Linked DNA regions of Homo sapiens. The protein of the gene in region 2 purifies or fractionates together with the protein of the main gene of each other region. This does not show direct contact. Each region holds a gene or a part of one and is shown on either strand. Other genes may lie near its edges.

Region 1 (3,500 bases), on a different chromosome or scaffold from region 2:
GTGGCCTCGTTCACTCGGAAGAGGTAGTCCCGGACAGCCCTCTTACTCTTGCAGTTCAGCTCCTTGTGCAGGAGGGCGGCGCTCTTGCTACGGCGCTGCTTGGCATAGCTCTGCTGCAGTTCGCTCTCTGTGCTGGAGATCAGCTTCTGGGTCACAGGGTTCGATTCAGCAGTGGCTTGGTCACAGCGTGCAGGCCGGGACTGCAAACCCAAGACCACCATTACAGAGGTCTAGCCTTCTTACAGTGGTGGTATGGGGTGGGGGATGGGGTGCAGATACTTTGGGTCCGAGGTCGGGTGACATACCAAGCATGGCAGGATAATCATGTCTGTATCCACAGCTTTGGCGCTCTGTTCTTCCAGCCTCAGACTCTTACTGGGCTGCCACCGCTGAGCCAGGGACCGTATCCTTTCATCTGTGGTGAGCTCATCACCATCAAACCTGCAGAAGGGCAGCACAAAGTTGAGTACCAACAGTGTAGACAGGCCAGTTTTAACCTGCACTTAAACTTGTTGGCAATGTTCTTCAGAGTTGTTCTTCTGTTAGTATCAATGACATTATCATATTCCGTGTTTTGCCAACTGGATTCACAGCCTTCACTTATGCATGGATACAGAATGCATGTATGCTCTGTGGCAGGAGATGCAAACTCTCCTGCAAAATCCATTCTCCTTTTCTATCTTTTCCATTTTTAAAATTAATTTAAATGTTTTATTTTCATTAAAAAAACATTTTTAAAAAAAATTTATTTGTTTTTTTTAGAGATGACGTGTTGGAGCTATGTTGCCCGGGCCGGCCTGGAACTCCTGGGCTCAAGCGATCCTCCTGCCTGCCTCAGCCTCCCTAGTAGCTGCGATTACAGGCTCATACCACCATGCCTGGACTCCCCTTCTCTCCTTTTTTTTTTAAATTTAACAGAGTTTAAATGAGCAAAGAGTGATCCCCGAATTGGGCAGCTCCTGAATCAGAATGGGTTCAGAGTGACTCCACTGCTGTGGTTGGAGGTTTACGAACAGAAAAAGGAAACTGACACACAGAAAACAGAAGTGAGGTACAGAAACAGCTGGAATGGTTACAGCCTGGTGTTTGCCTTATTTGAACGCAGTCTGAACAGGTGGACGACTCTGGCCGAAACTCGGTGGCCCTTCTCTCTCTCTAAAGCTCCCTGAGTTTTAGCAAGAGCCACAGTCACCCAGCTAGAGACATGGTTAGCAGCTAGATGTGCTGATGCCCCTGGGTTCTGGGCAGTGCAGGTGAGCGAGGTGGTGTGCCACCTCTGGAGTCTACTGGACTAATGGTGCACTCCCTTCTCCACCTCCCCTCTTTCCTCTGGGCTAGAACCGAGAGGTGGGGTGGCCGAGGGAGCTTTCACTCCACAAATGAGAACGCTGGGATTGCTGGGTCCCTCTGTGGAGCAGAGCTGTCACCCACCCCAGACTCTGCCTACCTCTGGACTGTTATGTGAGAGAAAAACAAATTCTATCTGCCCTGATCCATTATATTTCTGGTTTCTTAGTTACCGCAGCTTAGACTGTACCCTAACTAATGCAACCCTGCTTCACCTCATAAAGGCTTTTAGGCAATATATAAGAAACTAATAAAAGAGAAACACGAAACACAAAATAAAAGAAAAATTAAATGAGAATTTACAATGAGTAAGAAGTCAAAATTAGGATACGGGGGATGGAGGAGACTGGATTGCAGATATGTAAAGTTCTACGCAAATTAAAAAGTTGGGCCCAAAAACTAGCTCTGAACTTCCTGGCCAAGAGAAAGGGAATGTTCTTAATTTTAAAAATATCTTGAGCAGAAGTTCCTGCTCTGTGCTGTCTGCTCCCTGGGATTACACATGAGAGACATCTTGGTGCCTGCCCAATTTCTGTGTCTGTAAAATGAGTTTCCTCTCAGAGGCCGACTACAAACATAAGTTTTAAAGAGGAACCACAGTGCACTTTGAAGATGATCCAGGTAACGTAGCACAGGCCACCTCCCACCTCGCCTTACAAAGGACTAGCAACTGCTTCCCGGCCTGTCGGAGCGTCGATCGATCCAGAAGCTGCTGCCAGGAGGCGCACACCCTCCCGCCCTCACATATTCTCTCCCTGGCCACACTTCAGCTGCACGGAAATGTCCCTTACCTCTTCTGAACCTCCAGGAAGAAATAATCGGTCTTTTTCATCTGCAGTTCGTATATGGCCCGGAGAATGTGCAGAGGGGCATTGAGGGCATCATGAGCCATCTGGAGGCCAGGGGAGGACGCAGACAAGAACCATTAACAGTGCTTCAATACGGTATTGATCAACTGAACTCAAAACTGAGAAGACAATATAGCAAAAGCTGCCACAGGTTATAATTGAGGAACATTATATGGGTAGTTTAAAAAGCATATAAAATTGTAAGCACCAAAACATGGACTATAACACCTACACTACGACTGTAACTTCAAAGGAAATTATAAAACACTAAAACCCCAAAGAAATATCCTGTCAACAAAATACAATGCTGACAGTAGATACTTACCACATCGTATTCACGGCTAGCGTCTCTATAACTGTTTTACACTCAAGTTTGACAACTAGCGCATACATAGGCACTGTATTTTCTTTTGATTTTTTTTGACACAGGGTCTCACTTGGTTGCCCAGGCTGGAGTGCAGTGGTGTGATCATAGCTCATACCACTGAGTACCCAAAAGCGTAGAAAGGCAAGAGGAGTTTTAACCTGCACTTAAACTTGTCAGCAATGTTGATCAAAGTAGTTTTTCTGTTAGTATCAATGACATCATCATTTTCTGTATTTTGCCAACTGGATTCATAGCTTTTACTTATTCATGGATACAGAATTGCATGTATGCTCTGTGCCAGGGGATGCAAACTCTCCTGCAAAATCTGTAAACTTGAACTCCTGGCCTCAAGTGATCCTCCTGCCTCAGCCTCCTGGGTAGCCAGGACTACAGGCGCATGCCACACCTGGCTAGTCTTATTTTTTGTAGAGGCAGGGTCTTGCTAAGTTACCCAGGGTGGTCTTGAACTCCTGGCCTCAAGTGATCCTCCTGCCTCAGCCTCCCAAAGTGCTGGGATTACTAGTGTGAGCCACTGTGCCTGGCTGGGATTTGCTTTTTCTGACATTCTACGCTACATTCTGTTTACTCTTCATTTAGTCACAACTTCTGAAGTCCAAGCCCTCATCCTTTTCATATTGTTCTGAGGAAGAATAGATTACCTAGTAAAGGTAAGAGTGTATTTCTGAGAAACTATGAGGAAGGAACTATCGTATAGAGTTCATGGACGAGCCTTAGGGCTTTAGTAAGCCCTTGAAATTCGTGCAAAATTTTACATACATGTTTGAATGTGTATTTTATGGGGAGAGAGGACCTAAAGCTTTTGAGTTTATAACCCAAAATATTAAGAACTATTGTTGTGGGGCTTTTCTGTTCTTCTGGATCAATTCTGCACAACATAAGACTGAGTCTTTAGGAAGTGAATTCTCAGGACAGCAGAC
Region 2 (4,919 bases):
TCTCTACTAAAAATACAAAATTAGCCGGGCGCAGTGGCGCATGCCTGTAATCCCAGCTGCTCAGGAGGCTGAGGCAGGAGAATTGCTTGAACCTGGGAGGCGGAGGTTGCGGTGAGCTGAGATCGCACCATTGCACTCCAGCCTGGGCAATGAGCGCGAAATTCTGTCTCAAAAAAAAAGGGGTGTGGGGGGAGTGACACAAAAGGGCACTAGACTTTCAAACACCACAGACAAATGTGTGGCCACAGAAGCCTTTGTTGGGAGCCACCAGTCAGGATATTAGTTAGTAGTTTCCATGTTCTTTTAGAAAGCTCTACTTTTTTTTTGTTGTTGTTGTTTTTTTTTTTTGAGACAGAGTCTCGCTCTTTTGCCAGGCTGGAGTGTAGTGGCGTGATCTCAGCTCACTGCAACCTCTGCCTTCTGAGTTCAAGTGATTCTCCTGCCTCAGCCTCGCGAGTAGGTGGGACTACAGGCACACACCACCACGCCCAGCTAATTTTTGTATTTTTAGTAGAGACGGGGTTTCACCATGTTGGCCAGGATGGCCTTGATCTCTTGACCTTGTGATCCACCCACCTCGGCCTTCCAAAGTGCTGAGATTACAGGCGTGAGCCACTGCACCTGGCCGAGAGCCCTACTTTCTATCCTGTGGTAATTTTTTTGCTGTGGTCCTGCCTGAACTAAAATTCTATTTATGCTAAGATGTGGCATGGTGGGATAAGGAGGAAGTTTACAAAGGGCATGAGGAAACCTCAGGGTAATGAGTATGTTCATTATGTAGATTGTGGTTATGATGTCATGGATATATACATATGTCAGAACCTCAAATTGTATACTTTATGTGTCGTATATTGTATGACAAACCTCAATAAGGCTGAAGAAAATACTGAGTTTAGTTCTGACCACTGAGTAAATTAAGCTTCCACCTCAAATCTTTTATAACATATTCTCTGTAAGAGCACCCTCATTCTTTATTGAAGAGGGAAAAAATACTTATTTTAGTGTACTTTGAAGGTTTCAAAATACCTTTTTCTGACATGCCATTTCATCATACCAAGAACCCTGTGGGAAGCAGATGAGAAAACATAGTTTTACATATAAGACCTAGAGCCAGCTAAATAACTTGCCCAGCATCACACAGCTTGATGGGGGAACAGCTAGGGACCAGAATCCAACTTAACAAATTGTATTTTCTTTATCTCACTTTATCCCATTTCTCGCTTTATCCCATTTCTCATGCAAAAATATGGCTGTGTTATCCTGAGAGTCCTAAAAGGCACACTGTGGATTGCAGTTCACCCTCTCTTTTTCAAGTAGTGTTTATTCCTGTGCAGATACTGCAAAGTAGCTTTTGTTTTGGGTTTTTTGTGGTTTTTTTTTTTTTTTTTTTTTTGAAGACAGGGTCCTCACTCTATCAGCCAGGCTGGAGGAAAGTGGTGCAATCTCAGTTCACTGCAGCTTTTCCACCTGCCAGGCTCAAGCAGTCCTCCCACCTCAGCCTCCCGAGTAGCTGGGACTATAAGCGTCCGCCACCTCATTCAGCTAATTTTTGTATTTTTGTAGAGACAGGTTCTCATCATGTTGCCCAGAGTTGTCTCAAACTCTTGGGACACCCACCTCAGCCTCCCAAAGTGTGTGCTAAGATTACAGGGATTACAGCCGTGAGCCACTGTGCCCAGCTATTTCTTTTTTGTTGTTGTTGTTGTTGAGATGAGTCTTGCTCTGTCACCTAGGCTGGAGTGGAGTGGTGTGATCTCAGCTCACTGCACCCTCTGCCTCCCAGGTTCAAGCGATTCTCCTGCCTTAGCCTCCTGAGTAGCTGGGACTACAGGCGCGTACCACCATGCCCAGCTAATTTTTGTGTTTTTAGTAGAGATGGAGTTTCACCATGTTGGCCAGACTGGTTTTGAACTCCTGACCTCAAGTGATCCACTCACCTTGGGCCTCCCAAAGTACTGGGATTACAGGCTTGAGCCACCACGCCTGGCCTATTTGTTCTTAATTATAGTTAAAATGCTTACATTTTAGAACAAAGAATAATGTATAATGAGAGTAGTAGAGAAAGGAATAAATAGGGCCGGGCACGGTGGCTGATGCCTGTAATCCCAGCACTTTGGGAGCCTGAGGCAGGTGGATCACCTGAGGTCAGGAGTTCGAGACCAGCCTGATCAACATGGTGAAACCCTGTCTCTACTAAAAATACAAACAAAATTAGCTGGGGGTGGTAGCGGGTGCCTGTAGTTCCAGCTACTTGGGAGGCTGAGGCAGGAGAATCACTTGAATCTGGGAGGTGGAGGTTGCAGTGAGCCAAGATTGTGCCACAGTACTCCAGCTTTGGCAACAGAGCTCAAAAAAAAAGAGAAAAGACTAAATAGGTTTGGCTCTAATAATGTATGCAATGAAAAGTTTTAAGAGATTTTTGGTACTGTTTAATGGGGGTAACTTTCATACCTAATAAGGAAATACTGGTTCCACAAATATTATCCAGTTCTTATGTGCCAAGAGACATCTTCATATCCCAAGCACTGATTTGATCCCCAAGTACAGCAGATGTGTTTTCCTTGTGATCTAAAGTAATTACATGACTTGTCTTAAACATCTTTGGGTATTTAAGTTCTGGGCTTTTTGCCACTCTCAAAACACCTAATACTAGATAAAGACTTCTTGCATTGTGGCCGGGCACAGTGGCTCATGCCTATAATCCCAGCACTTTGGGAGGCCAAGGTGGATCACTTGAGGTCAGGAGTTCAAGACCAGCCTGGCCAACATGGTGAAACCCTGTCTCTCCTGAAAATGCAAGAATTAGCTGAGTGTGATGGCAGGAGCCTGTAATCCCAGCTACTTGGGAGGCTAAGGCAGGAGAATCGCTTGAACCCGGAAGGCAGAGGTTGCAGCGAGCCAAGATCGCGCCATTGCACTCCAGCCTGGGCGACAGAGCGAGACTCCATCTCAAAAAATAAAAAAAGACTTCTTGCATTTGCCACAGTAGTGGTTTTAGGTGAAATATAAGGAATCGTTGATGACTTAATGATTTATAAATATGCAGATTACCTTGAGTTGCAGTGTAGGTTGGAAACATATGATGGAGAAAAGCTTAGAGTTATGAAAGATGATCCCAGAGTGAGTTGAGAGGAAGCAAGGAAGTTCTCAGCACTTATGGTCTTCGGCCAAAAGCATCTTGAGCATCATCGGGAATCTGACACTTTTCCAAGGCTTCTTGGATGGTTTCTGTCAGTGTGTGGATAGGCAGGATGGCATCAGGATTCTCTTTGCTTTTGCATGAGCTAACTTGCCATTGGGAAAACACTGTCTGATACTTTGTGGGGCGGGTGGAGGGGAGCAGGGTGGACGTTGAAAACTCAGTGTTGGAGAAATTCAGGCTAGCAGACAGTCAGCAAATATTCTCTCCCGCCTCACTGCCTTTTACTTTTCTGTCTTTCAGGAATCCGGTCAGTGAGTTTCTACGAGCACATCATCACTGTGGGAACAGGGCAGGGCTCCCTGCTGTTCTATGACATCCGAGCTCAGAGATTTCTGGAAGAGAGGCTCTCAGCTTGTTATGGGTCCAAGCCCAGACTAGCAGGGGAGAATCTGAAACTAACCACTGGCAAAGGCTGGCTGGTGCGTAAGCCCCTACCTGAGATGACTGCTACACAGTAACAGAAAAATTATCTTCCTCTATCTCTCAGCCCCCACTGACACACCATCTACTCATACTTTTTCACTAGTAAGAGGCACTCATTGGAACAGGAAAAGACTTCCCCCGATTTTGCTTTTATGTCTGCACGTTGCCTGTGGGAAAACTGAGGCCCAGTAAAACACACTGGTTGACTTAGGATTTTCCCCAAGGTGTAATAGAGCAAGAAGGATAAGGGACCTCCCACCACAGCTGTCAGTGAATTTTTTTTTTTTTTTTTTTTTTGAGACAGGGTCACTCTGTTGCCCAGGCTGGAGTGTAGTGGTGTGATCATAGCTTACTGTATGTAGCCTTGAACTCCTGGGCTCAAGCAGTCCTCCTGCCTCAGCCTCCCAAGTAGCTGGGACCACAGGCATATGCACTGTGCCCGGCTAATTTATTTTTTTTTAGTAGAGATGGGGTCTCGCCATGTTGCCCAGGCTGGTCTCAAACTCCTGGGCTCAAGTGATTCTCTCACCTTGGCCTCCTAAAATTCTGGGATTACAGCCATGAACCACTGCGCCCCACCTCCAGTGAATTATTCAAGTGTTTGGTTCTTCCTCCTGTGCCTAGCAGGTGGAGGGAAAACAGAACTTTGGTTCTAAGTCTCCTGAGAAGAACTGAGCCTTGTATAGCAATTCTTCAGCTGCTCCGTTCTTCTCTAACGTTTAGTTGGAAAAATGAGGCCCTGATTCCCATGAGAACCAACCAGCCAATCTCCTGACATGAGGTTGTACCTGTAGAACCCTGTTCCCTTAAGGAGACCAGAAAGCATTCCTGTCCCTTCCTCCCCCTTTTCCTGCCCCATGGCTAGAGGTGCTAATTGTAGTCTCTTTCTCTTCCCGTAGAATCATGATGAAACCTGGAGGAATTACTTTTCAGACATTGACTTCTTCCCCAATGCTGTTTACACCCACTGCTACGACTCGTCTGGAACGAAACTCTTTGTGGCAGGAGGTCCCCTCCCTTCAGGGCTCCATGGAAACTATGCTGGGCTCTGGAGTTAATGACAACTCCCCAAATGCAGAGATTTACACTAACTTCCATTCTCAGTTTCCTTGTTTCTTTTGATTTTTTTTTTCCTAATTGTGTGAGGCTCTTGTGTTTTAGTGGGAACACCAAAGTTTGCCTATAGTTTAGGCACTTAATAGGAAGAAGCTCTGTACAGAAATCTGAAAGTTGTTTTGCTTTTTGTTTTCCCCTTTGGTAATCAAAATTTTACTATCTTTTATTATTTCTGGCT
Region 3 (4,270 bases), on a different chromosome or scaffold from region 2:
GGAGGAAACCAATGCCATTGTGCCCTGCAGGCAGGGCCACCTGAACAGGGCTGAGGCAGCCACGACGGAATCTCTCCACAGCCCATCTTACTGTTGGCAAAGCAGCTTTTCCCTGTAGGCCAGGTTTTCCTAACTTAGGAGCCGAATCTCACAGACACTTTAATCACGAACCTTTCAGTTTCTGTTAACACCATGGGAATATGCTTGTCTATCTCATACCTTCTGCAGGAGGATTCAAAGGAGCCCACATGGGGCCTTACCGACGATGCTCTCCCACCCTCCTAAGAAAGCTGCCATCCAGGACCCGAGCACCTACCGACCACAGTGGGCTCCAGGTCCACAAACACTGCTCTGGGCACGTGCTTGCCAGCTCCAGTCTCACTGAAGAACGTGTTGAAGGAGTCGTCCCCACCACCAATGGTTTTATCACTTGGCATCTGACCATCGGGCTGAATTCCATGTTCCAGGCAGTACAGTTCCCAGCAGGCATTGCCGATCTGGACTCCTGCCTGCCCCACGTGGATAGAGATACACTCACGCTGTGAACCAGAACATAAATGTAGACCCATTCATTTCAAGGCAACTTGAAGCTATATGGTATGCAAAATATTATAATTTAATATTTATATACTGCTTCAGTATCTGGTGCTTTCACAATTGATATTTCCTAGGAGGGTTAGGTGACTGACCCCTTTATCCCTGTGAAAACTTACTTGCTCTACACCATCCCAGCTGCTAAGTTCCAGAGGTAGCCCTAGAACCTAATGTTTGCCACTACACAAAAATTAGATTATTTTAAAACTTGGAAGCCATGTAATGTCAGTAATCAAACCCACATTATAGCCAGTCACAGTAATTCTCTGAAGAATACATAGCAGTTTTTGATTATGTCCTACCAAAGGATAAGGTAATGGGGTTGGGTAAGGAAATAGAGAGTAGGTCCCAGGTCACTGTGGTCCAAGCCCAGGTGTTCAGTATGTGTCCTCTCTCTGCACCCCCAGATCTACCCTCCATCATTCACCACCCGCCCTGTGCTCTCCGAGGCTGACCCATGAGGACAGCATCAGAGGCCTTCCTTGCTCTCTGGCTTCGTGCTGGTTTGTTCAATGACAGGCAGCCGCAGGAGACCAGGAGGCTGGAGGAGAGTGGCGTCAGGGTACTCTCCCCTTGGCCCCTTCCTGCTCACCTTTCATGGGCGATACAAATCCCTCCATCAAGGCCACACTTTTGGCAGGTGGCCCTCTTCATAAAGTTACCCTCTCAATTTTTCGTAAGCACTCCCTCCCCTCTACCCCTTGAAGCCTAGGAGTGTAATGGCTCCCAGATGTCATCAGTGCTGGGACACTGCACTGTCCTTGGTGGTTTCTTTAAGCCCTGACAAGCCGGATGTGGTGGCTCATGCCTGTAATTCCAGCACTTTGGGAGGCTGAGCTGAGATCGCTTGGGACCAGTTTGAGACCAGCCTGGGCAACTATGAAAAAAAATTTTTTTTTTTTAAACAGAGTCTTGCTCTGTCACCCAGGCTGGAATGCAGTGGCACAATCTCAGCTCACTGCAGCCTCTGCCTCCCGGGTTCAAGCAATTCTCCTGCCTCAGTCTCCCACGTAGCTGGGACTACAGGCCACTATGCCCAACTAATTTTTTGTATTTTTAGTAGAGATGGGGTTTCACCGTGTTAGCCAGGATGGTCTCGATCTCCTGACCTTTTGATATGCCCGCCTTGGCCTCCCAAAGTGCTGGGATTACAGGCGTGAGCCACAGCGCCCGGCCGAAAAATTTAAACATTAGCCAGCTGTGGCAGCACACACCTGTAGTCCCAGCTACTCAGGAGGCTGAGGCAGGAGGATTGCTGGAGCCCAGGGGTTCAAGGCTGCAGGGAGCCGTGATCGTGCAACTGTGCTCCAGCCTGGGCAACAGAGCTGTTGTTGAGCCGTTTCAAAAAAAAAAAAAAAAAGATACTTGACAAACCACGGCCACTGCTATTCAGACTTGGGACTTAGAAATCTATTCTTTATGTGAATGCGTTGGTTGCTTTTTTTTTTTTTTGAGGCAGGGTCTCTCTCTGTCGCACAAGCTGGAGTGCAGTGGCACCATCATGACTCACTGCGGCCTCGAAGTCCTGGGCTCAGCTGACCCTCCCACCTCAGCCTCCCGAGTAGCTGGAACCACAGATCCACGCCTCCACCCCGGGAATTTTTCTATTTTTAGTAGAGAAGGGATTTCGCCATATTGGCCAGGCTAGTGAGGAGCCCCTGACCTCAGGGGATTCCCCGCCTCCAACTCCCGTCTGAGCTTTAATTCCTGATCTGACCAATGTCCACAGCCCTTGCCTCCATCAACAAGGCTCCTGGGGCTCCTCAGTGGTTTCCAATAGGACAGAGACATTTGGAGACCGGAAAGCGGGAGCAGCGCCCTTCTGTCTTCAGGAGGCGGCACCACTGTTTGCTCTCTGGGGGACAGGACACGGTCAATGCTCCCCGTCCACTGACTCAAGGCCGGCAGCTTCGTCTAAAACAAAAGCTGCCATCCCTGCCCTGGAGCCCGCAGACCCAGCAGACGATGCCGTGTCCTCGTGTCCCGCCCTGGGCCCCGCATCCTTCTCTGACCTCCTTTCTGCACCCTGGCCCGCAACAGCATCCCTCCATCCAGCCACCTCAGGAGGCCAACTTCGTCCACCCTCCAGCCTGGGCGTCTGCGGGGTGGGAGTGACCTGGCCTTACCATGTTGAGCTCCTCCGCTGCCGCAGCCCAACGCTACTACTTGACCTCAACCGCCGCTGCAGCTGCGCACGCCCAACGACAGCCTCCCGCCGTGCGCTGTCTGGGATTGGCCTGCTGGTGCCAGGCCACCATTGGTCCGGACGTCCTGGGAGGCGGGCCAAGGCTCGGATCCTAGTTTTGATTGGCCGTTGTGCAAACCACGTAGTGGGGACGCCCTCTGATTGGATGCAGGATTGGCGGGAAGGCAGCAGGCTCAGAGAGGGCCCTCTGACTGGATGCAGGACTGGCGGGAAGGCAGTGGGGTCAGAGGGCAGTGCGTGGGCTGAGACGTTTCCGGGGGTCCTCTGACCGGGGATGGAGCAGCTACTGCGTCTTTATAGGTGGAGGAACATTGCTTTGTAAGTAAGCTCCCAGCCTTGCAGTGGCTTGACCACGAACTTGTGCCGCTGCCTCCTCCCCAGTTGCCCCAGACCGGTTCCTCTGGAGGTGCCTTATTCAGATCTTTGCAAACATGGCCGCCTTTGAGAGGCCTTCACGGCATCTACCCAAGTCACAGCAGCACAGCAATCACCCCACCTTCCCACCCAGCACCCGGGAAGTGGCGGGATTCGATCACTTTTGTGATCTGAAAGGAAAAAGTGAGTGGGTTTCTGTGGCTCACGTCTGTAATCCCATCACTTCGGAGGCAGAGGCGGGCAGATCACCTGAAGTCAGGAGTTGGAGACCAACCTGGCCAACATGGTGAAATCCCGTCTCTACTAAAAATACAAAAACTATCCGGGTATGGTGGGCGTGCCTGTAATCCCAGCTACTCGGGAGGCTGAGGCTGGGGAATTGCTTGAACCCGGGAGGCAGAGGTTGCAGTTAGCCGAGATCGCACTGCAGCCTGGGCGAGACTCCGTCTTAAAAAAAAAAAGAAAAGAAAAGAAAAGAAGAAGCAGAGGTAAAATTAATATAGGTGGAGAGGTTGGGCTGGGCGCAGTGCCTCAGGCCTGTAATTCCAGTGCTTTGGGAGGCCTCCGCCGGAGGATTGCTTGAGGTCAGGAGTTTGCAACCAGCCTGGGCAACGTGGTGAGACCCGTCCTGCCCCCGTTTCTACAAAAAATAAAAAATGAATAAAATTAGCCGGACATGGTGATGGGTGCCTGTAATCCCAGCTACTCGGGAGGCTGAGGCACAAGAATCGCTTGAATCCGGGAGGTGGAGGTTGCAGTGAGCCGAGATTGTGCCACTGCACTCCAGCCTGGGTGACAGAGGGAGATTCCGTCTCACAAAAAATAAAAAACTAAAAAAAAATACAGTTTATTTGGGCCAAGTTTGCGAACTGCAACCTTGGAGATGCAAGTTGCCTTAATATACACTCTAATTAGCAGCAGTTACAAATGGGTTTTTAAAGGAAAAGAAGGGGCAGTTTCTAAATTGTTTACCAAGAATTTTACAAATAGAGACAGAGTCTTGCTGTGTTGCCCAGCCTGGTCTTGAACTCCTGGCCGGAAGGGAGCCTCCCACCTTGGCTGGCCTGGCCAGAGGAATGTATATTAAAATAACAT

Evidence for each region. The genes of interacting proteins can lie anywhere in the genome.
Region 1: the proteins of DCAF12 (region 2) and ZZEF1 purify together in Homo sapiens (affinity purification with mass spectrometry; one large-scale study listed by BioGRID and IntAct). This does not show direct contact.
Region 3: the proteins of DCAF12 (region 2) and TUBA3C purify together in Homo sapiens (affinity purification with mass spectrometry, with the first as the bait; 2 studies listed by BioGRID). This does not show direct contact.

Annotation. Positions count from the first base shown.
Region 1 is NC_000017.11:4,017,531-4,021,030, forward strand, and holds part of ZZEF1 (zinc finger ZZ-type and EF-hand domain-containing protein 1), read right to left. Parts: intron 2,240-3,500; coding exon 2,139-2,239; intron 442-2,138; coding exon 306-441; intron 201-305; coding exon 1-200. UniProt on the Homo sapiens protein: Histone H3 reader which may act as a transcriptional coactivator for KLF6 and KLF9 transcription factors.
Region 2 is NC_000009.12:34,088,114-34,093,032, reverse strand, and holds part of DCAF12 (DDB1- and CUL4-associated factor 12), read left to right. Parts: intron 1-3,442; coding exon 3,443-3,621; intron 3,622-4,524; coding exon 4,525-4,683; 3' UTR 4,684-4,919. UniProt on the Homo sapiens protein: Substrate-recognition component of a DCX (DDB1-CUL4-X-box) E3 ubiquitin-protein ligase complex of the DesCEND (destruction via C-end degrons) pathway, which recognizes a C-degron located at the extreme C terminus of target proteins, leading to their ubiquitination and degradation.
Region 3 is NC_000013.11:19,179,025-19,183,294, forward strand, and holds the start of TUBA3C (tubulin alpha-3C chain), read right to left. Parts: upstream 2,801-4,270; 5' UTR 2,724-2,800; coding exon 2,721-2,723; intron 540-2,720; coding exon 317-539; intron 1-316. UniProt on the Homo sapiens protein: Tubulin is the major constituent of microtubules, a cylinder consisting of laterally associated linear protofilaments composed of alpha- and beta-tubulin heterodimers.